Homo sapiens: one gene and its partners. The protein of the gene in region 4 interacts with the protein of the main gene of each other region in a pairwise test. Each region holds a gene or a part of one and is shown on either strand. Other genes may lie near its edges.

Region 1 (7,030 bases), on a different chromosome or scaffold from region 4:
GTTCCTCTCAGAGGTCAGCTTTGGGGGAAGGTGGAAAATGCTTTTGAGGGCTTCAGCTGCTGCAAACCTCAACAAATCATATTTTGCCTTCAAAGGTTGGCCAAAGACCACTAACTATTGGAAAAACAAGAGTCCACTAATAGTCATCATCCCCTCCCTGTGTATTTCTTTACCATTCTCAAAATGCCACCATCTCATTGAACCTCCATATCATCCCATTTTGCAGATAGGGAAACTGAGGCCCTGTGATGTCACACAGGGGTCAGCAGCAGTTCCAGACTAGAAGCTACGGAGCACAAACATCTCAGCCTTGGGTGTCAGGCTCAAAACCCAGCTCCTTGTCCGGGAGGAGGTCCCCGGCTCCATCTGGCAGCCCATAGTACAGGTCTTCCTCTTCCTTCTCAGGTTCCTCCCCACCTGTGTCCGAAGCCTCCTTCTCCTCCACCTTTGTCCTTGGGTACCGCTGCCAGTTGTTGGGCAGGGCTATTTCCCACTGCTGCCCCTCTTGGGGCTCATCCTCCAACGTTGGGGCATCAATCAGGGCAAAGTCTTGGAAGCGGTCCAGCGGGCACCTGCAGCCCTGAGGTTCCTGTTGTGGGGAACAAGCTTCCTCCCTGTCATGTGGAGATGCATTGGGGCTGCTGCCTTCACTGGAGTCCATGTCCAGGTCATCTTGGAAGGAAGCCAAGGGGGCAGGGCCCTGGGGACAGGCCAGGGGGCTGCAGGGACAAAGACCACAAGGGCAAGGGTATCTCTGAGTCAGAATGCCTGGGTCCACATTCCAGCCGCTAGCTGCAAGACCTAGGGTAGGATAATCCACCTTCCCGGGCCTCAGTTTCTTCCCAATAACAGAATTCACTCCTGCAGTTCTTTCTTAGGTTTACAGCAGATAATATGTGCAAGGCACTTTGCACAGTGCCTGGCACATAGAAGGTGCTCATGAAATAGGGCTATTACTATGCTATTATCTGAACCAGGTCACTCATCTACTTCTCCAATTATTCAGGGTTCTCCTCTGTTGCTCATAGGCCCAGTTACACTGAGGTGTCCCCGGGTGTCTTTGCCTCCCTCATTGGACTCAGAGCTCCTCAGGGGTAGATTCCAGTGAAGGCTGGGCAGGAAGTTGGTGCTCAGTAATGTGGATGGAATGAATAAGTACATGGATGAATAAGGAGCTCAGTTCACAAACAGACAGGGATGGGAGTGGAGTGGGGAGGGCCTTGCCCAAGGTCACAGAGCAGGTCAGCAGCAGACCCAAATTTGAACTCGGGTCCTCTGGCTCCTGGCCCCCTGCTACTCACGACAAGCATTCAGAGACATCAAGGGCCTACTGTATGCCAGGTACTTAAATGCACTGTCCCAACCCTCAACATTCCTGGGTAGTAGGAATGATCATCCCTGTGTGGGGAAACTGAGGCTAGGGAAAGTAAGGAACCTACCACAGCTACACAGCACAGGAGCTGGGGTTTGAACTGAGGCCTGACTCCCAAGCCCATACTCATTTGTCTGCCACATCTGCCACATCTCAGGGTGTCCCACACCCTCCACTGCCCTCTCCTTACCCCCAGTGTCCCCACCCACCCCTCGGCGGTCCCCCACTCCTCTCCTTTTTAACCCTTGAACTGGGCAGAAGCCCCACTCCTGCCCTCTAAGCACTCACCCGGGCCAGCTCTGAGTTAGGCGTCTTTCCCCTTCACTCTCGTCTGAGCCCTTGTGGATGACCACGGCAGCCTCCATCCAGGCCTGAACGTCGCCAGGGCCACCTTCTCCTCCATCACTGGTTCCCAGCTTCGGCTGCCCCATCTCAGGGGCCAGCAAGGAGCGGTGGTCCTCACTGTAGCTCATGACTTTCATCTGGATGTGGCTGAAGTCAGGCAGGCTCTGGTCATAGGCGGCTTCCTCCCACAGCCTTACATAGGGCGGCTGGGGACTGGGGCTGGAGTGGGAGAGAGAACAGGCAGGCGGCAAAGAGTCACTCAGCAAACACCAGTGTTCTCCCCGGCCCTGTTTGCTTTGGGTATGTGGTCTCCCCTCACCTCACAAGAAGCCTTTGGGGGATGTTACTGCGCCCGTTTCAGGGATGAGGAGGCTGAGGCCCAGCAAGGTGAGTTAATTAAGTGACAAAGCTCAGGCCTGACCCCAAGTCTGACTCTCTATCCAGTGTTTTTTTCACCTGATGCCTCCAAAGTTAACCACAAGGATGCAATTGCAAAATGAAGACCCGTTAACATTGAGTTTGCCGGGTCCCAGATGGTGGGTAAAGGCTGAATGCTTATCAACCCATTATTCTAAACATTATTCTAAAAAATGCCTTGAGGCAGAAATTCTCATTCCCAGTTTACAGATGAGGACATACCCAGCAATGACAGTCTACAGCAATGGGGAACTCCTTCCTGCCAGGCTCTGTTAGTTGGCTCATCTAACCCTCACCATAATTACAAGAGATACTATGAAGAAACTGAGGCACAGAGTCTCTAACAGACTTGTACCCGGGTGACATGGACCCTAGGTGATAGTACTGGAGCTCCAGATATCATGTTCTCTATGACTGTGCTACAGTCCCTCTGGAAAGTAAGGTTCAGAGACTAGGCCCCTTGCCTAGGGTCACACAGCCGGGAAGTGACTGGGAAGAGCTCAGAACCCAGGGTGGCCGGAGCCCCCACTGTATCACAGGAGCCCACCCCAAGTAACCGGCCCTGAGACGGAGCTCTGGCTGGCCTCCATACCCACAGGGTCTATCCCCTTCCTTCCCACTGAGGCAGTTGTTCACCTTGGGTGCCAGGGGCAGAAAACGCCATTATGAACCCCTTCCCCAAGCAAAGCAGAGATCATCCCTAACCCAGCCGACAGACTCTGGGCTTGAAGCCCGGCCTCCTGAGTGCAGAGTCACAGCCCAGGGGGTTGGTGGTCCCACTGCCTCTCCAGGGCTGGAGCATTCTTGGCTGTGCCATGGGAGCCAGGGCTCAAAACCTCCAGAGAGGGAAGCAGTTTGTGGCCAGATCAGGCCTGAATTCAGGCCCCGCCTCCATCACTGCTGAGTGCAGGCCCCGCCTCCACCACTGCTGAGTGCAGGCCCGGCTTCCATCACTGACTCCCCATGAGGTTTGGGGCTAGTGACTACACTTCTCTGAGCCTCAATCTTCCTAGCTGTATAAAGAGCCTAACACCCCCACCTTACAGGGTTTCTATGAGGACTGAGGGAGTCAGTGCCTGACTCAGTCTCTGGCACACAGAAGGCACTTACTAATGATGACAAACACTCATAGAAGACCTACTGTGTGTCAGGTTCTGTTCTTAGCACTCTGCCTATATTATCTCACTTAACCCTCCCTGAAGCCCTAGGAGATAGGTACTATTAGTATCCCCATTTTACAGACGAGGCAAAGAGAGGTCAGTAGCTTGCTGGAAGTCAGGCAGCGAGTAGGCGGCAAAGCCCTGAGGCTGAGCCTTGGCCACCACCATGCCTCTTGTTTGTCAGTAGTAGAAGCACTTACTCCTGTGACTCTATTGCACTGTATTTCTCACAGTACATTTATTTCATTGTATGATTTGTTTCATGGAGATCTTGTATTCACCGAAACACTGTCTCGTCCCTGACAAGACAAAGTCCCTGGGCCTCAGTTTCCTCATCTGTACAATGGGAATAATAATGCCTAACTCACAGAATTGAGAGTTGAAAACAGTCCATAATTTCTAATACATTCTCAGTAAGTGAGAAGGCAAACAGCCTTCCTGCCCTCCCTCTCACTCTCCTCAGTCAGGGGAGACTGGCCTATGGGGCTTACTCCTCCCCTCCCGAGAGGGCCTGGCACCTACCTCTTCATCTCGGCAGCAAGCCCATTCTCCAGCAGGCCCATGGCCTTTGGGGAGAGGATGCCTTGAAAGTCAGAGTCAGCAGGGACGAAGGTGATCTGCAAGCAAAGGAGAGACAGCCTCTGTGCAGTTGACCAGGGTAGGGGGGCTACTGTCCCCTCAGGGAATTGGCAAACCTCTCCATGAGCTCTGGGAGACAGGCTGCACCACGGAGGCCTCCCTGCTTGACAGGAGAGGGGCCTACTTGGGGCACAGCACCAGCGGGAGGATGGACCTCTGTGCTCCTGCTCCCTTCCTGGTTCTTCATTCACTCTACAAACATTTATTATCTGCTGTGTGCAGGCACTGTCGCAGGCACTAGGAGCAGCAAGGAGTGAAAGAGAACCCTGTCCTTGAGGAGCTCACATCTTTTCATTTCCCAGGGGTCTTCGTCCAGTGCCCAGCACAAGCCTGGCACATAGTAGGTGCTTCATCCATATTTGGTGAATGAGTGGAAAGCAAGTCATTGTCATGTGTTTTTGCCACATGGGCTGCAGTGGGTGACAGAGAAGTTATGCCCGCCAGTCCCTGTCCCTGAACTTTCAGGAATCAAGAGGTCTCTGCAAGTCCAGCCCTAGGTGGGCACTGCGTGGTGCAGTCGGAGGCAGATCATGAAGGAGGCAGTGGGTGAGGGAGAGGAGCTGTGCCTGTGGGATCTGGGAGATGGGGTGAGGATCCCTCCTCTGCCAGATTCTCACTGTGGGCCCTAGGCAGGTCATCTCTCTTCGCAGTCTCTCTGTGCTCCTCTGTATAACGGGGCTACCCTCGAAGAGATACTTGCACAGCCATGTTCAGAGCAGCAGTATTCACAAGAGCCAAGAGGTAGATGCAACCCAAGTATCCACTGATGAATGAATGGATAAACAAAATATAGTCTATCCATATGATGAAATACTATTCAGCCTTAAGGATGGAACTTCTGACACATGCTACAACATCACTGAACCTCGAGGACATTATGCTGAGCAGAAAGACAAATACTGTATGATTCTACTTTTCTGAGGCACCTGGAATAGTCAAATCCATAGAGCCAGAAAGAAGAAAGATGGTTGCCAGGGGCTAGAGAGTGGGATAATGGGGAATTGTGATTTAATGGGTATAGAGTTTTAGCTTTACAAGACAAAAAGCATTCTGGAAATTGGTTGGATGACAATGTGAATGTACTTAGCTGTACTGTACACTTAAATATGTTTAAGACACTAACTTTTATGTTACGTGTATTTTACCATGAGTTTTAAAATGGGGCTAGTTACGCCAGTCTCCTGAGGTTGCTGTGAAAATTTCATGAGATCATATATAGGGAATCCCTCAGCATGGTCCCCAGCACATAGTAACTACTCAGTAAATCATAACTTGATGCTATTGATGATTCAGTTGTCTGACTTCTCTGAGTCTTGCTCTCCTCGGCTGAAAATTTTTCCAATAAATATTTGTTGAGACCCCACTGTATTATACCAGATTCATAAATAGCACTTCCCTATTCCCCTTCCCATAGAGCAAAGTGAGTAGAAGACACTTGTCTGCACTAGGAAAGCTCCATTCTGATGGGGAGAAGGGAATGATGGATGGAGGGGGCCTTTGTACTCCTATGAGGAGTGCGCTTTCTCTAGATGTCCAGAAATAAAACAGAGCTCCTGGGCAATGAAGAAAGACGCTGTCTCTACAAAAAAAATAAAAAAATTAAATAACAAATTTAGCTGGATGTGGTGGTGTGAGCCTGTCATCCCAGCTACTTGGGAGACTGAGGCAGGAGGATTGGTTGATCCCAGGAGTTCGAGGCTGCAGTGAGCTATGATTGCACCTCTGCACTCCAGCCTAGGTGACAGACTGAGCTCCTGTCTCTTAAAAACAAAAAAGAAAAGGAAAGAAATAAGGCAGGGGCCTGGGCTTCTTCCACCCCCGTTAAGGATGCTTTGTACTTCCCAGCTAGTACTGTACTTCCTAGAAGCTGCCTCTTCCTCTGCCTCATTACCTCATGGCCCAGTCAGCACCATCATCATCACCGTCACCATCATCATCACCGTCACCATCATCATCACTATCATCATCATCATCATCATCACCATTGTCACCATCACCATCCTCACCATCATTATCACTATTATCATCATCACCATTATCACCATTACCATTCTCACCATCACCATCCTCATCATCACCATCTCCTAATCACCATAATCATCACCATTGTCACCATCACCATCCTCACCATCATCATCTCATAATCACCATCTTTACCATCATCATTCTTATCAGCACCATCACTAACATCATCATCATCATCATCACCATCACCATTCTCACCCTCACTATCCCCACTGCACTCTCATTATCACCATCATATCATCATCACCACCCTTAGGAAAAGCTTGGAGAAGGAAAGGATGGGGCATCTTAAAATGCAAGTTTTTTGATGAGGAGGGACAGGCAGAGTTGAAGCTGGAGAGAGGATATCAGACCATGGAGACCACCAGAACACCAAACTAAGAAGCTTAGCCTTTCTCCAGATGCAATGGGGAGTCCTGAAGGACTCTCAGCAAGAGAGTACACTGTCAGATTTGTGTTTAGGCAGAACACTGAGCAATCTCCAGAGAGAGGGAGGCCACCAGTCAGGACCCTGGTCCTGGTCTCCAGCACAGCAGGCAGGAGTGAGGAATGGGGGATGCGTGGGCAGAGACCCTGCTCTCCCTGCCACTCCTTTCCCTGCTCACAGCTCCCCTGCCCCATCTTCACTAATGGGCTCAGCACCTCCAACTGTCCCATCCACTAGATTTGCCCTGATCCCTTCTCCTCTCTCATGCCTGAGGCCCAGCTGACCACCAAATCTGACCAGGTCTACTTCAGAAATTCAATAAGATAACCTGGGTGGAAGTGCTGGTGCTATGCCTAGCCACAACGGGTACTCTATGTGAAGTGAACTGTAAATGTCACCTTAGTTCCTACAGCTTTGTGTTTGAATTCTGCATTATTCCAGATGACTGTCAGCTCTCACCAAGACCAGAGAAGAAGCCTCCCCACTGGTATGGCTGCCCCCAGACCTTCCTTCTTCTGGATGTCTTTCTCAAACTGCAAAGCTGGTCGTGTCCCATTAACTAAAGGACAAGCTCCAAATTCCTTACCATGGCATCCCAGGCCCTGAAGAGTTGAGCCCCACTCCCTCGCTACCTTTACCTTCCTC
Region 2 (6,887 bases), on a different chromosome or scaffold from region 4:
ACTGCACTCCAGCCTGGGCGACAGAGCCCTCAGAAAAAATAAAAATAAAAATAAATTTAAAAGTCTCAGAATAGAATATCCATTCTGCTGGAGGCTACTCAGCATTTCAAGAGCAGGGAAATCTGCTCTTTACCTTTTCTCCATCCCAAATAACTCCTTTCTTGAAAAGAGCTTTTATTGAGGTATAATTTGCATACCATAAAATGCAATCATAGAACATTTTCATCACCCCAAACATATCCTCTGTGCCTATTTGCGGTCACTCCCCTTTCACACCTCGGGACCCAGGGAACCACTATTCTACTTCCTGTTTCTATAGATTTGCCTTTTCTGGACATTTCCTATTAATGGAATCTTACTGTAGGTATTTTTTTTTTTGGTCTGGATGTTTTTATTTAGCATAGTGCTTTTTTTCATCCATATTGTTGAATTTATCATTCATTTTTATTGCTGAATAATGTTCCATGGCATGAAGGTAGCCACTTGTTTATCTATTGACCAGCTGATAAACATTTGGGTTGTTTCCAGCATTTTGTGGGGATGAGGTTGTTTCCAGTTTCCATCTCAAATAATTCTCAATTGTTTTTAATTGTTCTGCTCTATCCACCCCATCCATATCATTTTTCCCCAGAATCCCTTCTATCCAACAGGAGAGGTTCATATACTAGGCACCTCCCCAAAATAAATAAAAATAAGGAAACCTGACAAATGTTCACCACATCTACAACTGAATTCTATGTTTTAAGTGAATATGCTATAAACAAAGATTCAAATAACTTCCACTTATAATGCAAATAAAGACTTCTTTTATGTTTGCTAATTACATTTATCCTTTATACGGAAATAATTTTAAAATGAAGAAAATGTAGATACAAGCCACATATAACATCCATCAGATACTCAGATATACAAGGGCTAATATTCAAAGTAAAATGTGAAACTTGGGTAGTATGGTCTGAATCTTTATGTGCCCTCCAAAATCACATGTTGAAATTTTCAGCCGGGCGCAGTGGCTCAAGCCAGTAATTCCAGCACTTTGGGAGGCCGAGGCGGGCGGATCACGAGATCAGGAGATCGAGACCATCCCGGCTAACACGGTGAAACCCCGTCTCTACTAAAAATATAAAAAAAAATTTAGCCAGGCATGGTGGCGGGCACCTGTAGTCCCAGCTACTCAGGAGGCTGAGGCAGGAGAATGGCATGAACCCAGGAGGCAGAGCTTGCAGTGAGCCAAGAGTGCGCTACTGCACTCCAGCCTGGGGTGACAAAGTGAGACTGTGTCTCAATAAATAATTAATCGGTGAACTCAGATGAAGTATATAGGGCAATTCTTTGTGCTCTTCTTGCATTTTTTCTCTATACATTTGCAATTATTTTTATTTTTTTATTTTTTAAGACAGAGTCTCTCTTTGTCACCCAGGCTGGAATGCAGTGGGACCATCTCGGCTCACTGCAACCTCAGCCTCCCAGATTCAAGCAATTCTCCCGCCTCAGCCTCCCGAGTAGCTGAGACTACAGGCATGTGCCACCACACCTGGCTAATTTTTGTATTTTTTAGTAGCGACGGGGTTTCACTATGTTGGCCAGGCTTGTCTTGAACTCCTGACCTCGGGTGATCCACCTGCCTTGGCCTCCCAAAGTGCTGGGATTACAGGTGTGAGCTACCGTGCCCAGAAGCAATTATTTTTAAATAAAAAGTTAAAATAAATTTCCCCCAAAAGAGCGGAGAAAGTTCATTATCCTTCAGTCCAAAGACTTTATCTCTAGCTGGAGCACCAGGAGATGCTTCCCTGAGTCAGTACCAATAGACTTGGGAAGTACCACATGACAGTCTTTAGTTTCCCTCAATTGTCTATTAAGAATCAAATTTCCATGGTATTAAAGGTGGCTTGAACCCATTTAGCTTTTTATCTTATACAGCTTCAGGAGGCTTGAATATCATAATCTTGAATATATAAGCCACAGTGTGAAGCAGTATATTTGTTTCTTGGTTCTGAATGAATCTCTTCCACATACATCAAGTGAACTACCTTCCTTGTAGTCTACAATCTGCAAAACATCACTCTGCTCCCTCCCCCATTTTCTTCCCTGTAAGACGTTGCGGGCCTCTTCACACCCAAAAGTGATGCTTGTTGAGACTCAAGGATATTTCATCCTTAAGTAGTTACTGGGAGTTACTGTGCCTTGCTGGAATAAGGTGTTGCCCCAATTTACTGTTCTATAGGAACAACTACTTCCCAGAGGTAAAAGGAAGGAAAGCAAAAGGAAATAGAAATGGAAACAAAGGAACCCAGCACCACTGACCACTGTCCCAATAGCTATACTGATCACTACTTATTTATTTTCTAGGACACTGAAGAATTTTAAAACGTCAGACCCTTCTTTACTTGCGAAAAACGTGAAAGCACAGTACCAGAATCCAGAGATCTGAATGCAGCAGCATACTCTCCTGTATATCATGCTTTAGCTTTTCTGACTAGCCACACTCAATGTAGCATGTATCTTCATATCAACCCCACAAACCCCATTCTCTGAACATTTTGAGCTCCTCTAATCCCCCCAGAGTATCCATTGCTTATTTTAAAATTTCAGGGCTAGTTCTACCAAATCATCTTATCTGAGAATTTTTTTATTTCTAGAGACAGAGGATCACTCTGTCACTCAGGTTGGAGTGCAGCAGCACAGTCATAGCTCACTGCAACCTCGAACTCCTGGGCTTAAGCAACCCTCTCACCTCAGTCTCTTAAGTAGCTAGGACTACAGGTGTACACCATCATGGCTGACTTTTTTTTTTTTCTTTTTTTTTTTTTTCTTGTTTGTTTGGTAGAGGTGGGGGCAGGGGTCTCACTTTGTTGCCCAGGCTGGTCTCGAACTTCTGGCCTTAAGCAATCCTCCCGCCTCCACCTCCCCAAATTCTGGGATTACAGGCATGAGCCAGTGTGCCCAGCACAAAATCTTTACCAACTTTAAAATATAATTTAAAAAAATCTCTTAAATGCCTTCCACATAGATATTGATTTTTCTTTCATTTCTCTTGTCTTGGTAAATCCTCTAGGAATGCTCTCTGAAAAGCAGCTTAATTCATCATGCAGTTGCCTTCATCACCATCACTTGTTGAAAAGTCTTATTAGTATGTAAAGCAGTTCTAATTTGGAGCTGTAAAATTGCTTCTAAAAACTCGTAATAGAATAAACTGAGAGTCATCCATAATTAGATTTTTTTAATAGGACTTCTAACTTGTTTTCATTATCCAGCTGTGTTTGAACTCAGCCAGCTGTTGATGGAACTGAGGTGGTTGTAAGGGTTGGGGAAAAGAAGAGGAAGCTCATCTCTGCAGAGTGGGTAGGGGAAGCTTTAGTTCTCAGTTTAAAACAGTGGTTCTCAAAGTGTGGTCTCCCAACCTGCAGCATCAGAGTCTCATGGGAACTTGTTAGAAATGATTTCTTGGGCCCTACTCCAGACCCACTGGATCCGGCCATCAGGTGAAGTTCAAAGAACTTGGTTCAGATGTAGTGTTCACTAAATTACAGACAGCAGTCAAGATTTTAGGAAGAGCTGGTTGAAAATAATTGCCTTGACTGGCTCTAGTGACCCCCCAAGGAACACATGCCACTTACATGTATGTTCTCTTCATTCATCATTTATGGGTATATTTGTATTACTCCACAGGGCTGACGATTTGGTATTAGACTTGCTAATGAGCAGCAGCCATGTGCTCCTGCTATCTGACAGTCGGTACAGTCACAAGTATATTGTATGCAGCAGAGAAGAGCTTAACAGCCAGCCTCCTTCCACATTCTGCTCTCAGGAAATAAGCAAGGGGAGGATCCAGAAGTGTCATTTGACACTGACGACAGAGTACTTATTTCCTATGCAAAAGAGCCCAGGCAGAAAGACAAACCTAAATAAGAATCTAACTTCTGTAAGAAGCTGTGAAGAGTGATGCTGGCAGCTGCCTTTGCAGACTCTAACTCCAGCAGCATGAATGTGTCCTTTGCTCACCTCCACTTTGCCGGAGGGTACCTGCCCTCTGATTCCCAGGACTGGAGAACCATCATCCCGGCTCTCTTGGTGGCTGTCTGCCTGGTGGGCTTCGTGGGAAACCTGTGTGTGATTGGCATCCTCCTTCACAATGCTTGGAAAGGAAAGCCATCCATGATCCACTCCCTGATTCTGAATCTCAGCCTGGCTGATCTCTCCCTCCTGCTGTTTTCTGCACCTATCCGAGCTACGGCGTACTCCAAAAGTGTTTGGGATCTAGGCTGGTTTGTCTGCAAGTCCTCTGACTGGTTTATCCACACATGCATGGCAGCCAAGAGCCTGACAATCGTTGTGGTGGCCAAAGTATGCTTCATGTATGCAAGTGACCCAGCCAAGCAAGTGAGTATCCACAACTACACCATCTGGTCAGTGCTGGTGGCCATCTGGACTGTGGCTAGCCTGTTACCCCTGCCGGAATGGTTCTTTAGCACCATCAGGCATCATGAAGGTGTGGAAATGTGCCTCGTGGATGTACCAGCTGTGGCTGAAGAGTTTATGTCGATGTTTGGTAAGCTCTACCCACTCCTGGCATTTGGCCTTCCATTATTTTTTGCCAGCTTTTATTTCTGGAGAGCTTATGACCAATGTAAAAAACGAGGAACTAAGACTCAAAATCTTAGAAACCAGATACGCTCAAAGCAAGTCACAGTGATGCTGCTGAGCATTGCCATCATCTCTGCTCTCTTGTGGCTCCCCGAATGGGTAGCTTGGCTGTGGGTATGGCATCTGAAGGCTGCAGGCCCGGCCCCACCACAAGGTTTCATAGCCCTGTCTCAAGTCTTGATGTTTTCCATCTCTTCAGCAAATCCTCTCATTTTTCTTGTGATGTCGGAAGAGTTCAGGGAAGGCTTGAAAGGTGTATGGAAATGGATGATAACCAAAAAACCTCCAACTGTCTCAGAGTCTCAGGAAACACCAGCTGGCAACTCAGAGGGTCTTCCTGACAAGGTTCCATCTCCAGAATCCCCAGCATCCATACCAGAAAAAGAGAAACCCAGCTCTCCCTCCTCTGGCAAAGGGAAAACTGAGAAGGCAGAGATTCCCATCCTTCCTGACGTAGAGCAGTTTTGGCATGAGAGGGACACAGTCCCTTCTGTACAGGACAATGACCCTATCCCCTGGGAACATGAAGATCAAGAGACAGGGGAAGGTGTTAAATAGATTTAAGTTTCAAAGCAAAACAAACTGTGATTATTGTATTTACTTGTACTGCTGCTTATCAATATTGCTGACTTTACAAACTGATATAATTATTACCATTAGGAATTATAAAAATATTTCACAATCTACACTTTCCAAATGTGCAATGTGGTAAGTAGAGAACCATGTTAGAAGTAATAATTGTTTCAGAATTAGAACTTGGCTTCCCAAACAATTTAAGTGTTGTGTAAAGATGTTGCTGTCAAAGTGATTAGACAGCCTGGCTATTCTGTCATTTGTTCACAGTGGTTTTACTGGGTACCCCCTAGGACCAGCCCTGTAGTGGACCGGCTGGAGCCTGCAGTAGAGGTTCTGTCAAAGCTGAGCCCCTTTACCTTCAGTTTCACCCAGGACCTGCTAGTCCTAATTTTACCTACTAAATTGTATTTCACATAACCAAAGCTCAAAATCTACTTTCACTTGAGATTTTTAACACATTAATGATAAATTTTAATGCGTTCTTCATTTACTTAATAAGTGTTAATTTACTTGATGAAAAGTCCGTATCATAATGTTCATGACTGAAGGTCAAAGAAAAAGAAACAGCACCTTATTCCAATTCTGGACTCATTTCAAGCCATGGCTGGTTCTGGCCAAGTTTAAATAAATTCAAACTTAAACTAAAGCCTGCTTCAGTGAACTTTTTAAAGCTACCTGAATGAGTCTTCAGTTTCTAAGTCTAAGAATTGTAGCAGCTTTCCAATGACATTCAGTAGTCTGATATGGGGGAAAAAATACTTAAAAAAATGTCCTCTCTTCACTTCCAAAATGTGGGAAAGTTATTTTTCTATAAGCAGAAATGTGTTCCTCCTAATATCTCCTTTCTCCCAAGATAAACCATGGTTAATGATATAGGTATAGATTACTCCTCAAATACAAATAGAAGATGGAGATGGTGATCTTTCTTGTTAATGGTACTAAACTTACCCTTACTCAGAACATTGAACTTGAACCCTACTCAACTTTTAAAATACTATAGGCTAAGTTATAAAAATAATCTAGCAACCTGAGAAAGAGATTAATATCAAAAAGAGAAAATTCAACAAACCAAGACAGAATTTGGTTAAGAATACAAAATAAAAAGCATAAGGGCAATGCAGAAAGCAGTAAAACTGTGTACCCAGACATACGGTAAAATCTGAGTAACAGGCAATAACCATTCATTTTATAGCAAGGTAAAACATACCCAATAAAACATGATTATGATATATTTCTGCCCCTTTTAAGTATAATGACATTCACCCATGATTCTTGATTACTTTGTTATGGAACTCGGGTATTTTCACTGAAAGTTTCCCTCAGAATAGAAATGCCTTTAGGGCAAACCAAGCCATGGAGAATCTGAAATATAAAGGATATGTTATGGAAAAAAAAAGATTTTGCTTTTTGTCTATGGGTTTCCGGATTCTTTGCTTTTTCATAAGTGGTCATAGTTTGCTTTTTAACACAGGAGGTAGGGCTGTATTCTTTTTACATCCTTCATTACAAATTTTATTTGAAGCTCATGTATTCAAATAAAGTAAAATTTAACCCAAGAATCCAAAATATTGTCTTGTGATATGGTAGTTATAAAAAGGATTATCATTGTCTGTGATTATTTGAATAAATAATTTTTATGTTCATTATATGTAGTAAATTTAGGATGT
Region 3 (6,515 bases), on a different chromosome or scaffold from region 4:
CTGTGGAAATGATATAAGCCTAATAAGTGTTTTTAAATACCTTCTCCTGTCTATTACAAAAGTACACATTATATAGAAAATGTGGAAATTATAGGGCAGAAGACAAAATAAAATAAAAATCACTCCAGATTATGTAGAAATAACCAACTACTGTTAACTTTTAGGTTTATAAACTTCCAATTATTTTGATTTTCTTTACATATATTAAATTTATTTTTTTCCTTTTCTATAACCTAAGTGATACATATTAAATTTAAAATATTTAAGCCTCTTCCAAAAGCATTTTTTATAAAGTGGTATCTTTTTTTTTTTTTTTTTGAGACAGAGTCTCGCTGTCACCCAAGCTGGAGTGCAGTGGTGCAATCTCTGCTCACTGCAAGCTCCGCCTCTCAGGTTCACACCATTCTCCTGCCTCAGCCTCCTGAGTAGCTGGGACTACAGGCACCCACCACCACACCCGGCTAATTTTTTTTGTATTTTAAGTAGAGACAGGGTTTCACCGTGTTAGCCAGGATGGTCTCGATCTCCTGACCTTGTGATCTGCCCGCCTCAGCCTCCCAAAGTGCTGGGATTACAGGCATGAGCCACCGTGTCTGGCCAGAAAGTGGTATCTTAAAAGTGAACTCCGCTTTCAAGATTTTTGGAGAATGATTGCTGTAACCCAGAAAACAAAAAGGCACCTCATTAAAGATGCTTGCCTACCATTGCAGAGATCAGATATTAAGAATGAGCTGAGGATCTTAGATTGCAGTTATAAATACCGAACTATGGCACTTTTCATCCCAAAGAAACTGGACTTCCACATAAACTCATTTTTTTCCTAATTGTAGACAATTTGAAAAAATTAGAAGAGAAAAAGTCCATTTCACCACTTAAAGCCAACCATAGCTATCACTTTTATATGCTCCTTAAAGTCTTTTTTTTCATATTTTAAGCTAATTTGTCGCTCAAGCTGTATATACAAATTTGCATCTTGATGTTTAACCCAGTATGGTAGCACACTTATTTCCTCATGTTATGACATACTTTTATTATAATAATTTTACAACTGTTTATTATATAATTGTACCATAATTTACTTAAACCATTGTCTACTTTTGAATTTTCTATTATCCTAATTATACTGTGATGAATGTTTCTGTGGACAAAGCTTTCTTTCTTCTGAGGGTTATTTCTTGCTGATAGATTCCTGGAGAGAGAATTATATGTCAAAGGTGTTAATGAAAATTTCTAGTTTTTGTTATTTTCTGAAAGAGTTGGTTTATATCTGTGTCTTTTGGCAAAATCACTTTCAGCATTAGAAAGTGGGACACTAATCTGAAAAATGGGACAAATATATTTATGGAGTATTGGGGGGCAGAATATTTGAAATTGAAACTATTCAAAGAAATCCATTTCTTTTGGTTGCTGTATTCACAAATAATATATCATGATTACATTTTGGAGGAAACTTTCGGAGGGATTAAGGAGATATTAAGTTCATGAATTCGGTAAAGATCTTTGTGTATGGTAGATGTCTTCTGTCTTAAAGAACTATCAGTAATGTACCCTGATCAAGTGTCCTTTAAGAACTAAACTAATCTGGGCCAGGCGCGGTGGCTTACATCCGTAATCCCAGCACTTTGGGAGGCTGAGGCAGGTGGATCACCTGAGATCAGGAGTTCGAGACCAGCCTTTTCAACATGGAGAAACCCTGTCTCTACTAAAAATACAAAATTAGCCGGGCGTGGTGGTGCATGTCGGTAATCCCAGCTACTCGGGAGGCTGAGACGGGAGAATCACTTGAACCTGGGAGGCGGAGATTTCAGTGAGCTGAGATCGCACCATTGTACTCTAGCCTGGGCATACAGAGCAAGACTCCGTCTCAAAAAAAAAACAAAAACAAAAACAAAAAAACAAAACAAAAAAACAACAACTAAACTAATCTGAGTACTATCAAATTTTTTAAAAACACTACTTCTCTGTAATGTAAATGGGTACAGGAAAGCTTTATAAGCTATAGCTCCTTGTCAGTGTTATTTTCTCTCAAGTCTGTTCCATTTTGTTTGGTCCAAAACATTTTGGTAGATGCTGCTATCAAAGCATAGTCTTAATGGGAAGTGGAAGTAGGATCACTATAACAGGAACTCAATACATACTGAATTAGCTTATTATTTAACTCAGTAAGTACTTGTTTAAACTGAATGTTTAAAATTAGACATTGTCAGGCCAGGCCCAGTGGCTCATACCTGTAATCCCAGCACTTTCGGAGGCCAAGGTGGGCAGATCACTTGAGGTCAGGAGTTCAAGACCAGCCTGGCCAACATGGTGAAACCCTGTCTCTACTAAAAATACAAAAATTAGCCGGGCGTGGTAGCGGGCACCTGTAATCCCAGCTACTTGGGAGGCCGAGGCAGGAGAATCACTTGAACCCGGAAGATAGAGGTTGCAGTGAGCTGAGATCATGCCACTGCACTCCAGCCTGGGCAACAGAGTGAGACTCTCCAAAAATAAATAAATAAAATAATAAAAAAATAAAACCAGACATTATAAATGGGCCTCAGCAATAGTGTTTTATAACAAGTACATATTATCAAAAAACAACTGAGATCACTCTTACTAACCTATGTTTCTGAAACAGATGTCTGAGGATAAAAAGGATGAAGGCAGTGGGACAAGTACTTCAGTAAGGAAAGGTGAGAACCAGTGCATATTTGGTGTTGGACTATGAGGGGAAGAATATGTGTGGTGTTGCATGCCTGTAGTCCCAGCTACTCAGAAGGCTGAGGCAGGAGGATTGCTTGAGCTAAGCAGTTCAAGACCACAGCTTGAGAACATAGTGAGACCCAGTACCAAAAAAAAAAAAAAAAAAAAAAGAAAAGAAAAGAAAAAGAAAAAAAGAAAAATGAAATAAAGACAAAGAAAGAAATTTGTGCTGAGTGTGGAAAGCAAAAAACAGAGATGAACAGCCAACAGCATTGTAAGACTTTGCACACTAGAGGAGGCCCATTGGGGTTGGGTGAGTTTTTGCTTTGGACTCCCTAGTGCAGAGGGACAGTTTAGCTGCTTAGCAAGAAGCTATGAATTACTGGGAGGTGGAACTCAAGTTCTTTTTTCACTCCTTAGCTCTCTCCCTTCACATTGCTTGCCCTTCCCACATCCTCATGGTTAGTGCTATTACAGGATTATGAACTGTCTATGACATCTTTTTCAATAACCTATAAGCAGTGGTGCACTGGTAAATGTTTAACAACTGGTTCTCCAAAACTCCTGTGTGTACATATGCTTACTAAAAATTTTACTGATATAAAGGTTGCACGTCATCTCAGCACCTCCAGAGGCTGAAGCAGGAGAACTGCTTGAGGCCAGGAGTTCAAGATCAGCCTGGAGAACATAGCAAAACCCTGTCTTTTTAAAAAAGAAAATTAGCTGGCATGGTTGTTCGCACCTGCGGTCTCAGCTACTCAGGAGGCTGAGGCAACAGAATCACTTGAGCCCAGGAGTTCGAGGCTGCCAGTGAGGCATAATCATGCCACTACACTCCAGCCTGGGCGGCACAGTGAGTCCCTGACTCTAAAAATTTAATAAATAAATAAATAAAAATAAATAAATATATATCACACCATTTAAAATAATAAAATATACAATACTCCTTATGGCCAATTTCATATAGACAACTGATTCTCACAAAACGCTCTCCTTCATTTTTGCCAGACCCTTGCACCTTAGCCAACCATGGCTGCAATTGATGAACAAGTATAGTTCCAGCGTGAATGTTATTTTCCTCTAAGTTAAGGAGTGAGATGAAAATGAAGCAGAAGATAGATGTATGTTGGAACTTAACTTGGTTGTCAGTGATGTGAGTGACTTCTTTGCTGGAATGGATAATAGTTCTAAAATACTGGAAGAATATTTCCTCATTTTGCAGGGTTAGTCACAATGTAGTGGCTACAGGGATGATACTGAAATGTAATATGTAATCTGCATTAGTAACATGTTCTCCATCATTTTCTTAAGCCTAGACAATCAACAAAGCCATACATCAAGCCCTGATGTTTAGTGTCTGCTGATTTTCGTGGTATAAATACTTCCACCAAAGCTGATTTTAAGCTATCCACCTCATGTCATTGAACATGGAGTTGGGAGGAGATGTGCAGTAGTGCACCCTTAACATAGAATTTCCGCCGGGCGTGGTGGCTCACGCCTGTAATCTCAGCACTTTGGGTGGCCAAGGAGGGTGGATCTCCTGAGGTCAGGAGTTCGAGACCAGCCTGGCCAACATGGCAAAACCCTGTCTCTACTAAAAATACAAAAAAATTAGCTGTGCATGGTGGCACGTGCCTATAATCCCAGCTGCTGGGGGGCTGAGGCAGGAGGATCACTTGAACCTGGGAGACAGACATTGCAGTGAGCCGAGATCGTGCCACTGCACTCTAGCCTGGGCAACAGAGCGAGACTCCATCTCAAAAACAAAAAAAAACAAAACAAAAAAACAGCATAGAGTTTCCAGCATCCAAATACAACGGACATAAAAAACCAGAAGAGCACATAGCATAAACAAATGTAGTAAGATAATTAGGAAGTGATGGGTTTTGAGTATTACCTCTATTTTTAGTAACTTAATTTATTGTAAGTTGGTATAATTTAATTTTTAATAATGGCTATGTTTAACCATCTCTCAAAATTCCTGAAAGTTTATCAGCTCTTCTGAGCAGGTACAAGCCAACTTCCTCACACCACTACGTAAAGGAAAGATCCTTCTTAGTTCCTGCTCCCCAAATCACATTCATATACCTGCTTGAATCTGTAAGACTTCAATTTTCAAAGGGAAAAAAGAGTTCTTCCCTGGAAAAGTTTAGAGATCTTTTCCTTTGACCTTATGTTTAGCATCCACAAAACTTCAAAAGTGATATGGTGATATGTCAAGCATCTATCTAAGCTCTCTGGTCTGCAGGAGTTGGGATATGGTACTAGAAAATGCAGTCAGCTGCCAACACTTGCAGGTGACTGGAGAAAAGCAATGGCTTGACAACTGGCCACTAAGAGTGAGCTCACACGTGCACAGGCTTCTTAAGTAATAGGAATTCATAGTAACCAACAATATTACTAACTTGATATGTTTCATTGGTTGTTAGCAAGCAAAGAGACTTCCTGTAAGCGGCAAAGCAAAGACAGTGCCTGGGATCCCTCACAAACAATGAAGAAACCAAAGCAGAACCAACTTACCCCTGTAACCAACTCAGAAGTGGCTTTGGTCAATGCCTATCCTGAACAAAGACGAGCCAGGCGCCAGTCTCAGTTCAATGAGGTGAACCAGAACCAACATGACAGTGATACTACGGAGTATGGCAGTGAAGAGTCTAACTCAGAAGCCTCCTCGTGGAAGGAGAGTGAAAGTGAACACCACCCATCACCAGACAGTATTAAGAGGAGAAAAATGGCTCAGAGGCAAAGGAATCTGGGAAGTTACCAAATGAGCGAAAGGCACTGCCTCCACTGCAAAGCCTTGAGAACCAACGAATGGTTGGCGCACCATTCCCGACAGAAGCCTTCAGTAACACCGCCAATGAAAAGAGACAGTCAAGAGGAAAGTTCCATATCTGACATTAACAAGAAATTTAGTAAATTTTGAATTTTATCACGTTCTTCCTTCACTTGAAGCCAAATGAAAGAGATGAATAAAACATGAAAAATCACCAGAGCTATAGGTGAGGAGACTTTTACAACAAAGTCTCTCTACCAACAAACAAAAACATACTTGGAACCCAAGAGGTAAAATCTCACACAATTCTTCGTTCAAAAAAAAAAAGGCCATCACGTGTTTATGGCACCATTGGAACACCAAAGATCTATATCTGCTATGATTTTTTTATTTGAAATAGCACAAGACAGATATTTTGTGCCTTGAGTGTATATATTTTGTGCCTTGAGTGTATGTATTTTGTTTATGTCTGTAATATGAATAAGAAAGCTCTTTGAAAATGTATTATTTATGTTGAGAAACCACTTAAATGTATTCAGATGTTTTGCTTATCTGACTGACTGAATGAACTAGGTGAAGTTGGTTGGAATAGAATTGCCCCATCCTCTCTAGGTTTGACCCTACAAGAACTGTATTGCCACACATGTCAGCTAGGGGCTGGTGTGGAAGAGGAGCTCAAGAGGCTGGAATAAGATCTGATTCCTGGAGTAGGGAGGAGAGGCAGCATGACCCAGAAGGCAGTTGGCAGTGGGCTACCCACGGTTGTCATCCACAAAGTGCATGGCAAATGTTAAAGGAAAAATTATTCTGACACTTGTTAAAATGGCCAGGAGGACTTCATTCAAGACTCTATTGCAATAGAGAGTAGAAATTGAGCTCCACTCTGAATACAACAAGGACAAGTGGGGATTTATAGCCAGGAGCAGGAGGAGGACATCACAGGATGGGAAATTACCAAAGAGAGACATCAAACATAGGAGTATTCCTGATAAAGTGACCTAACAGGATTCATGCTAAAGGCAGGCCAAGGACTTACACATCAAAAGTGGAGAAT
Region 4 (7,030 bases):
GGCCGGGCGCGGTGGCTCATGCCTGTAATCCCAGCACTTTGGGAGGCCGAGTCGAGTGGATCGCTTGAGGTCAGGAGTTCGAGACCAGCCTGGCCAGCATGGTGAAACCCCATCTCTACTAAAAATACAAAAAAAATTAGCTGGGCATGATGGCGGGCGCCCGTAATCCCAGCCACTCGGGAAGCTGAGGCAGGAGAATTGCTTGAACCCAGGAGGTGGAGGTTGTGGTGAGCTGAGATCGTACCACTGCACTCCAGTCTAGGCAGCAAAGCCAGACTCTGTCTCAAAAAAAAAAAAAAAAAAAAAAGAGTGAAATACTGATACACATAACCAGTTCAATGAATCTTAAAATAATTATGCTTAGACAAAGAAGCCAGAGCCCCTTCTTCCCCAAAAGGTACATACTGTATAGTTCTATTTATATAAAATTATAGAAAATGGAAACTAATTTATAGTGACAGAAAGAAGTTCAGCAGTTGTCTGGGCATGGCAGGGAGGAACAATAGGAAGAATTACAAAGAGGCATGAAGAAAACTTTTGGGAATAACAATTAGGTTCATTATTTTTATTGCAGTGATGGTTTCACAGGCATATACATATGTCAAAGCTTATCAAATCATATACTTCAAACATGGGCCATTTATGATCATATCAACTACATCTCAATAAAGCTGACTTTAGATTTATTTTCTCCTCCTCCTCCTCCCTCTTCCTTTTTATTCATTAATTTTTTTAAAGATGGGATTTTACTATGTTGCCTAGGCTGGTGTCAAACTCCTACACTCAAGCCATCCTGCTGCCTTGGCCTCCCAAAGTGTCAGGAGTACAGGCATGTGCCACCAGGCCTGGCAATAAAGCTGATTTTAAAAAGCAGAATTAGAAAGAATAATGTATCTGTACATACTGACATTTTAAAAAGTCCATAACACATACTAAGTGGTTTTTTCTTTTTTTTCCTTTGAGATGGAGTCTCACTCTGTTGCACAGGCTGGAGTGCAGTGACATGCTATATCGGCTCACTGCAACCTCTGCCTCCTGGGTTCAAGCGATTCTCCTGCCTCAGCCTCCTGAGTAGCTAGGACTACAGGTGCGTGCCACCACACCCAGCTAATTTTTTATTTTTAGTAGAGACGGCGTTTCACCATGTTGGCCAGGCTGGTCTCGAACTCCTGATCTCAGGTGATCCTCCTGCCTCAGCCTCCCAAAGTGCTGGGATTACAGGCGTGAGCCACCACACCCAGCCGACACATACTAAGTTTTAAAAAGGTGTGGAATTATATATATATATGGAGAGAGCTAAATATCTCATGATTCCATTTATGTAAAATAAGTATATTTATATTGAATATATGTATGTGAATGTATACAAAAGGTCTAAGGAAATACATATTAATCTGTTTCCAGTTTGAGATTGGAGAAACAATATGGAGGGCTTTCATCTTATACATTCCTATGTTGTTTACACTTTGTATAACAATCATGCATACTTCTGAAATTTTAAAAATATAAGAAAGTTTAAAAAAAAAAAGTTAAAAAGCCACAGGGCAAAAGATAAAAAAGAAAAGCCAAACTGACATATTTTATAATTTAAAAAATAAAATGGAGTCTTGTGTTTGGAGACTAATTCCCAGTCGTGAAGCTAAAGTAAAGAGCATAAGCATCAAATTTGCTTGGACTTAGATTCAGATCTGCTCTCTCTGCTCTTGCCCAATGGAAAATCACCACTTCCATGAGCCACCGAGATGAGTGACAGCAACTGTCTATTCCTCAGGTATCCTGAGGCACACACCAAAAGCTTTAAAAGACCAGCAGTTTTCACTCCAATTTTCAATGGGGATGAGGAACAAACAAGGCTCCAGTAGAAAATCTGGTGGCCGGGCACGGTGGCTCACACCTGTAATCCCAGCACTTTGGGAGGCCAAGGTGGGAAGATCATGAGGTCAGGAGATCAAGACCATCCTGGCTAACAGGGTGAAACCCTGTCTGTACTAAAAATACAAAAAATTAGCCGGGCATGGTGGCACGCACCTGTAGTCCCAGCTTCTCGGGAGGCTGAGGCAGGAGAATCGTTTGAACCCGGGAGGTGGAGGTTGCAGTGAGCCAAGATCACGCCACTGCACTCCAGCCTAGGCGACATAGCAAGACTCCGTCTCAAAAAAAAAAAAAAAAAAATTCTGGCAAGGTTTCTGAGCCCACACTCCTCAGGATATTTAGTACCTTGGATAATTTTCTGCTGCTGTTGCCGGATTTCATCAAAACCCAAGCCTCTGGTCTCCTCTGGCTCCTCAAAGAGCCAAGGGTTGGGTGCTCCTCGCTTAGCCTCTTCACTCATCAGGCTGGACCTAAAGAACAATATTAAATGCATGATATATCTCAAAACATGCAGCTCAAATGCAAATTACTCCCACAAGTGCAGAGGTGGCCAGCCTTGAATGCTTTGAAAATTCAATTCAAACACAATTTATTGCATCATTAGTTTATGCCAGGAACTGTATTCAGTGCTGGACGAGATACAAGGATGAATAAGGCACAAGCTTGGTCCTCAGAATTACAGCCTGTTATAGAGATGATGGGAGAACATAATATTTGTACTAATCCTCCAAGAGATGTTTGAGTTAATAATCCTAAAAGAAGTTGGTAATAAATGAGGTTCTTAAATTTCAAAAACAGAAGGCCGAACAGCGGCCTTTTTATTAGGACAAAGTTTGTCTCAGAGGCTACGTGACCCCAAAGGTACAAATATTATTTCTCAAGCAGACACAATGTTGCGACTACAGATTACAATGTTGTTGTTGTTTTAAAAAAAGACCATATAATTTCCCATTAAAGGGTATTTGGAGCCGGGCGCAGTGGCTCATGTGTGTAATCCCAGCCCTCTGGGAGGCTGAGGCGGGCAGATCACCTGAAGTCAGGAGTTCCAGACCAGCCCGTCCAACATGATGAAACCCTGTCTCTAATAAACACAAAAAAAATTAGCCGGGCTTGGCGGCAGACATCTGTAATCCCAGCTACTTGGGAGGCTGAGGCAGGAAAATCGCTTGAACCTGAGAGGCGGAGGTTGCAGTGAGCCAAGATGGCGCCACTGCACTGCAGCCTGGGTAGCGGAGCAAGACTCTGTCTCAAAAAAAAAAAAAAAAAAAGGAGTATTTGGTTGCTCAGAGACAGAAACACATGCAGGGTTTCAATACCAATTTTGTGACTATAATGTAGCATTCATAACAGAATAAACACATTCTGATTTGTCAATCTTAACCTTACTCCCTCTAATAATCCATGTGCCCTTTCTGCACGAGACCAGTTGGTCTCGCTGTCTAAGGAACAGGAAACACATGATTTCCACCTCAGTCCCCATGTTTTCAGGATTTTTCTCCTCTCAAGTAGCTCCTCTCCTCTCCCCACCTGTCTGCATTCTGTCCAAGCTGAGAAGATCATCTTGTCCAGGACACGACCTTCTGACCAATTCAACAAAGAGATGAACATTAGACTCATCTTTAGAGCTCTCAACAGATTCATGAAAAATCATAGAATAAATGATGGGTGGGACATCAGCAAGATGACTGATTAGAGTCAGCTGGTGCTCACCCGCTCCCCCCCCCCCCCACCCACCTTTCTTAGGAAAGGACTAAGGCAATGAATAAACAGCTAAGATTTGACTTCAGTGTGGGAAAGTGCTGAACTGCAGTGGGGAAGTGGAGAGGCCCCTGTGGTGACTGAAAGTCTAGGAGGGCAGCATGAAGGCCCCCAGCCTCTGTGGCCCCATCTCTTCCACCAGGACTGAGGAGGCCTGGACATATGAAGGCCTTCTCCCTGTGAGGAAAAGGTAAGCGGGAGATTCCCACCTGCCCCCACTGCCACTGCAAACACCTACAGTCCTTATTACAGGAGGATCCCCCAGTCCTTGCAAGTTCTGAGCCCAGTTTGGAGAGCTGCTGGGAATTCGTACAGTTGCACTGCCCCAGATTAGGAGCATTCCCCACTCCCCACCCACTCCATGAGCCAAGTTACTACAGCATGGCGCCATCTTTAGACCACAGCTCCCTCTGGAGTGTGCCTTCCTCTTGGGGCCAGTAGCCACTGCACCTTTCCAGCACTGGGACTCCATTTTCATGCCACCAAAGCTACACAGGTGGCTGAACTCCACAACCCAGGGCTCGGGAATGGCTGTGACTCTGGTCCTGCAATGAAGGGAAACCACCCTCTGCACTTTCAGCCACAGAAACAGTCCCACCCAGGGCAAACCCACTCTTGAGCCAACCAAACTGCTGCATACCCTCCTGCAAGCAGAAGGCCCTGAGCAACTGACAGGCTAGCAGAGTGACTACGCTCCTGCATCCCGGATCTATGAAACAGTCGGGCAGTGCAGCCCCCTACAGACATGCCCCCGGCCTGCCCAAAGGCCCCACACCTCAATCAGGGCCTGAGAAACAACCCTGCAGGCTGCCCCTGGCAGACATACCCCCAGGCCAGCCAAGTAGCCATGTGTCCATATCTCAGGCCTGAAAAACAGCCCATGGGTCACCCCTAGCGGCAACTCCCCTAGGCCAGCCGAGCAGCCTTGTGTTCATATCCCGGGTCTGAGAAGCAACTCCTCAGGCCACTCCTGGCAGACATGCCCCCGGGGCCATCAAGCAGACTTATGCCCACCTCTCATGCCTGAGAAATAGCCCTGTAGGCTGTCCCCAGCAGGCATTCCCCACAGGAGAGCTGAGCAGCAGTGTGCCCATGTCCCAAACCTGAGAAACAGCCCAACAGGCCACCTCTGGCAGGCATACTCCCAGACTGGCCAAGCAACCAAGCAACTGTGCCCTCAGCCAGAGTAAGGGCACCAACCCCAACCCCAGCAAGTGAGACCCCAAGTTGGACAACCCACCATGTGAACGCATGCATCGCTGACCTGACAAATAGCCCGGTGAACACATCCCTGGCAAAGTCATGCCACCACCACCACAAAGCCTCTCAGCTGAGGCCACTGAGACACTCACAAATGTCACTGGCATGGATTACAGTTAAAGAAACTACACAAAAACTACACTACTATGCCCACCTGGAACCAAAGCCAATGCATCCCACTGAACCAACACCCCAAGATCCATTCATACAAATATTTCTTTCCCTGCAAAACCTACCACATAAAATTGGAAGAGGCAATTATTCCACCAGATGCATAGACATCAACATAGGGATACATCGAACATGAAAAAGCAAGGAAACATGACACCTCCAAAGGAATACAATAATTCCTGTGTAATAGACCCCAATGATAGAGAAATATACAAAATGACAGAAAAAGAATTCAAAATAGTAATCTTACAGTGAGATACAAGATAATAGAGCTAGACAATTTGATGAAATCAGGAAAACAATTCATGACTTGAACAAGAAATTCAACAAGAAGATAAATACCATAAAAAAGAACAAAACAGGTATCCTGGAGTGGAAGAATTCAATGAATAAGTAAATAAGTACAAGCTAGAGCTTTACCAAAAGACTAGACCAAGCAGAATTTTATTTATTTATTTTTTTGGAGACAGGTTCTTACTCTGTCACCCAGGCTGGAGTGCAGTGGCATTATCTCAGCTCACTGCAACCTCCACCTCCTGGGCTCAAGTGATTCTCCCTCCTCAGTCCTCCTGAGTAGCTGGGACTACAGGGGCATGCCATCACATCCAGCTAATTTTTGTATTTTTTGGTAGAGATGGGGTTTCACCATGTTAGCCAGGTTGGTATCGAACTCCTAATCTCAAGTGATCTGCCCGCCTTGGCCTCCCAAAGTGCCAGGATTACAGGTGTGAGCCACCATGCGTGGCTGAATTTTTGAACTTGAAGACAGATCTTGTGAAATAACACAGAAAGATGGGGGGAAGAAAAAGTAAAATGGAATGAAGAAAGCCTACAGAATTCATGGGACACTATTAAGTGAACAAATATTCACACTGTAGGTGTTCCAGAAAGAGAAAAGAAGGGCAAATGTACAGAAAACATTGAATGAAATAGTAGCTGAAAACTTCCCAAGTCTTGGGAGCTTCCAGATCCAGGAAGCTAAAAGAATCCCAAATAGATTCCATTCAAACAGGACCCCTCTTAGGCACATTAGAGTCAAATTATCAAAAGTCAAAGACAAAGAATTCTAAAAACAGCAAGAGAAGGACTGGATGTGGTGGCTCATGCCTGTTATCCCAGTACTTTGGGAGGCCGAGGCTGGCAGATCACGATGTCAGGAGTTCAAGACCAGCCTGGCCAACATGGTGAAACTCTGTCTCTACTAAAAATACAAAAAAATTAGCTGGGCATGGTGGCAGGTGCCTGTAATCCCAGCTACTCAGGAGGCAGAGGCAGGAGAATCACTTGAACCTGGGAGGCGGAGGTTGCAGTGAGCTGAGACCACGCTACTGCACTCCAGCCTGGGCAACAGAGCAAGACTCCATCTCAAAAACAAACAAACAACAATGACAAAAAGAAACCAGCAAGAGAAAAGCATCAAATCACCTATGAGGGAGTTCCCATTAGACTAATAGCAGATTTCTCAGCAGAAATCTTACCAACCAAGAGAGAATAGGATTTTATGTTCAAAGTACTAAAAGAAAAAAAAAATCTGCCAACCAAGAATATTACATGCAGCAAAGATATCCTCCAGAAATGAAAGAGAAATAAAATCTTTCACAGACAAGCAAAAACGAAGGTAATCCATCACCACTAGACCAGTCTTACAAGAAGTGCTCAAGGGAGTATTACATCTGGAAGTGAAAAGATCATAACAGCCATTATAAAAACATGTGACACTATAAAACTCACTGGTAGAGCCAATATACAAAGGAAAAAGAGAAAGAAATCAAGCCTTATCACTTCAGAACACTACCCAACCACAAAAATAAACAGTAAGAGGAAGTAAGGAACAAAGGATATAGAAAACAGCCAGAAAACAATAAAATGACAAGATAAGTCCTCACCTATTAATAATAACCTTGAATGTAAGTGAATTAAATATCTCATTAAAAGACATAGACTGGATAACTAGATTAAAAAAAAAAAA

Evidence for each region.
Region 1: the proteins of STX8 (region 4) and BSND interact in binary tests that used the Homo sapiens proteins (3 or more experiments, as listed by UniProt).
Region 2: the proteins of STX8 (region 4) and GPR151 interact in binary tests that used the Homo sapiens proteins (3 or more experiments, as listed by UniProt).
Region 3: the proteins of STX8 (region 4) and SSMEM1 interact in binary tests that used the Homo sapiens proteins (3 or more experiments, as listed by UniProt).

Annotation. Positions count from the first base shown.
Region 1 is NC_000001.11:55,001,903-55,008,932, reverse strand, and holds part of BSND (barttin), read right to left. Parts: intron 3,912-7,030; coding exon 3,817-3,911; intron 1,937-3,816; coding exon 1,661-1,936; intron 720-1,660; coding exon 305-719; 3' UTR 1-304.
Region 2 is NC_000005.10:146,513,169-146,520,055, reverse strand, and holds the start of GPR151 (G-protein coupled receptor 151), read left to right. Parts: upstream 1-3,865; 5' UTR 3,866-3,942; coding exon 3,943-5,202; 3' UTR 5,203-6,887. UniProt on the Homo sapiens protein: Proton-sensing G-protein coupled receptor.
Region 3 is NC_000007.14:130,210,860-130,217,374, forward strand, and holds the end of SSMEM1 (serine-rich single-pass membrane protein 1), read left to right. Parts: intron 1-2,620; coding exon 2,621-2,675; intron 2,676-5,114; coding exon 5,115-5,611; 3' UTR 5,612-5,985; downstream 5,986-6,515.
Region 4 is NC_000017.11:9,502,821-9,509,850, forward strand, and holds part of STX8 (syntaxin-8), read right to left. Parts: intron 2,343-7,030; coding exon 2,218-2,342; intron 1-2,217. UniProt on the Homo sapiens protein: Vesicle trafficking protein that functions in the early secretory pathway, possibly by mediating retrograde transport from cis-Golgi membranes to the ER.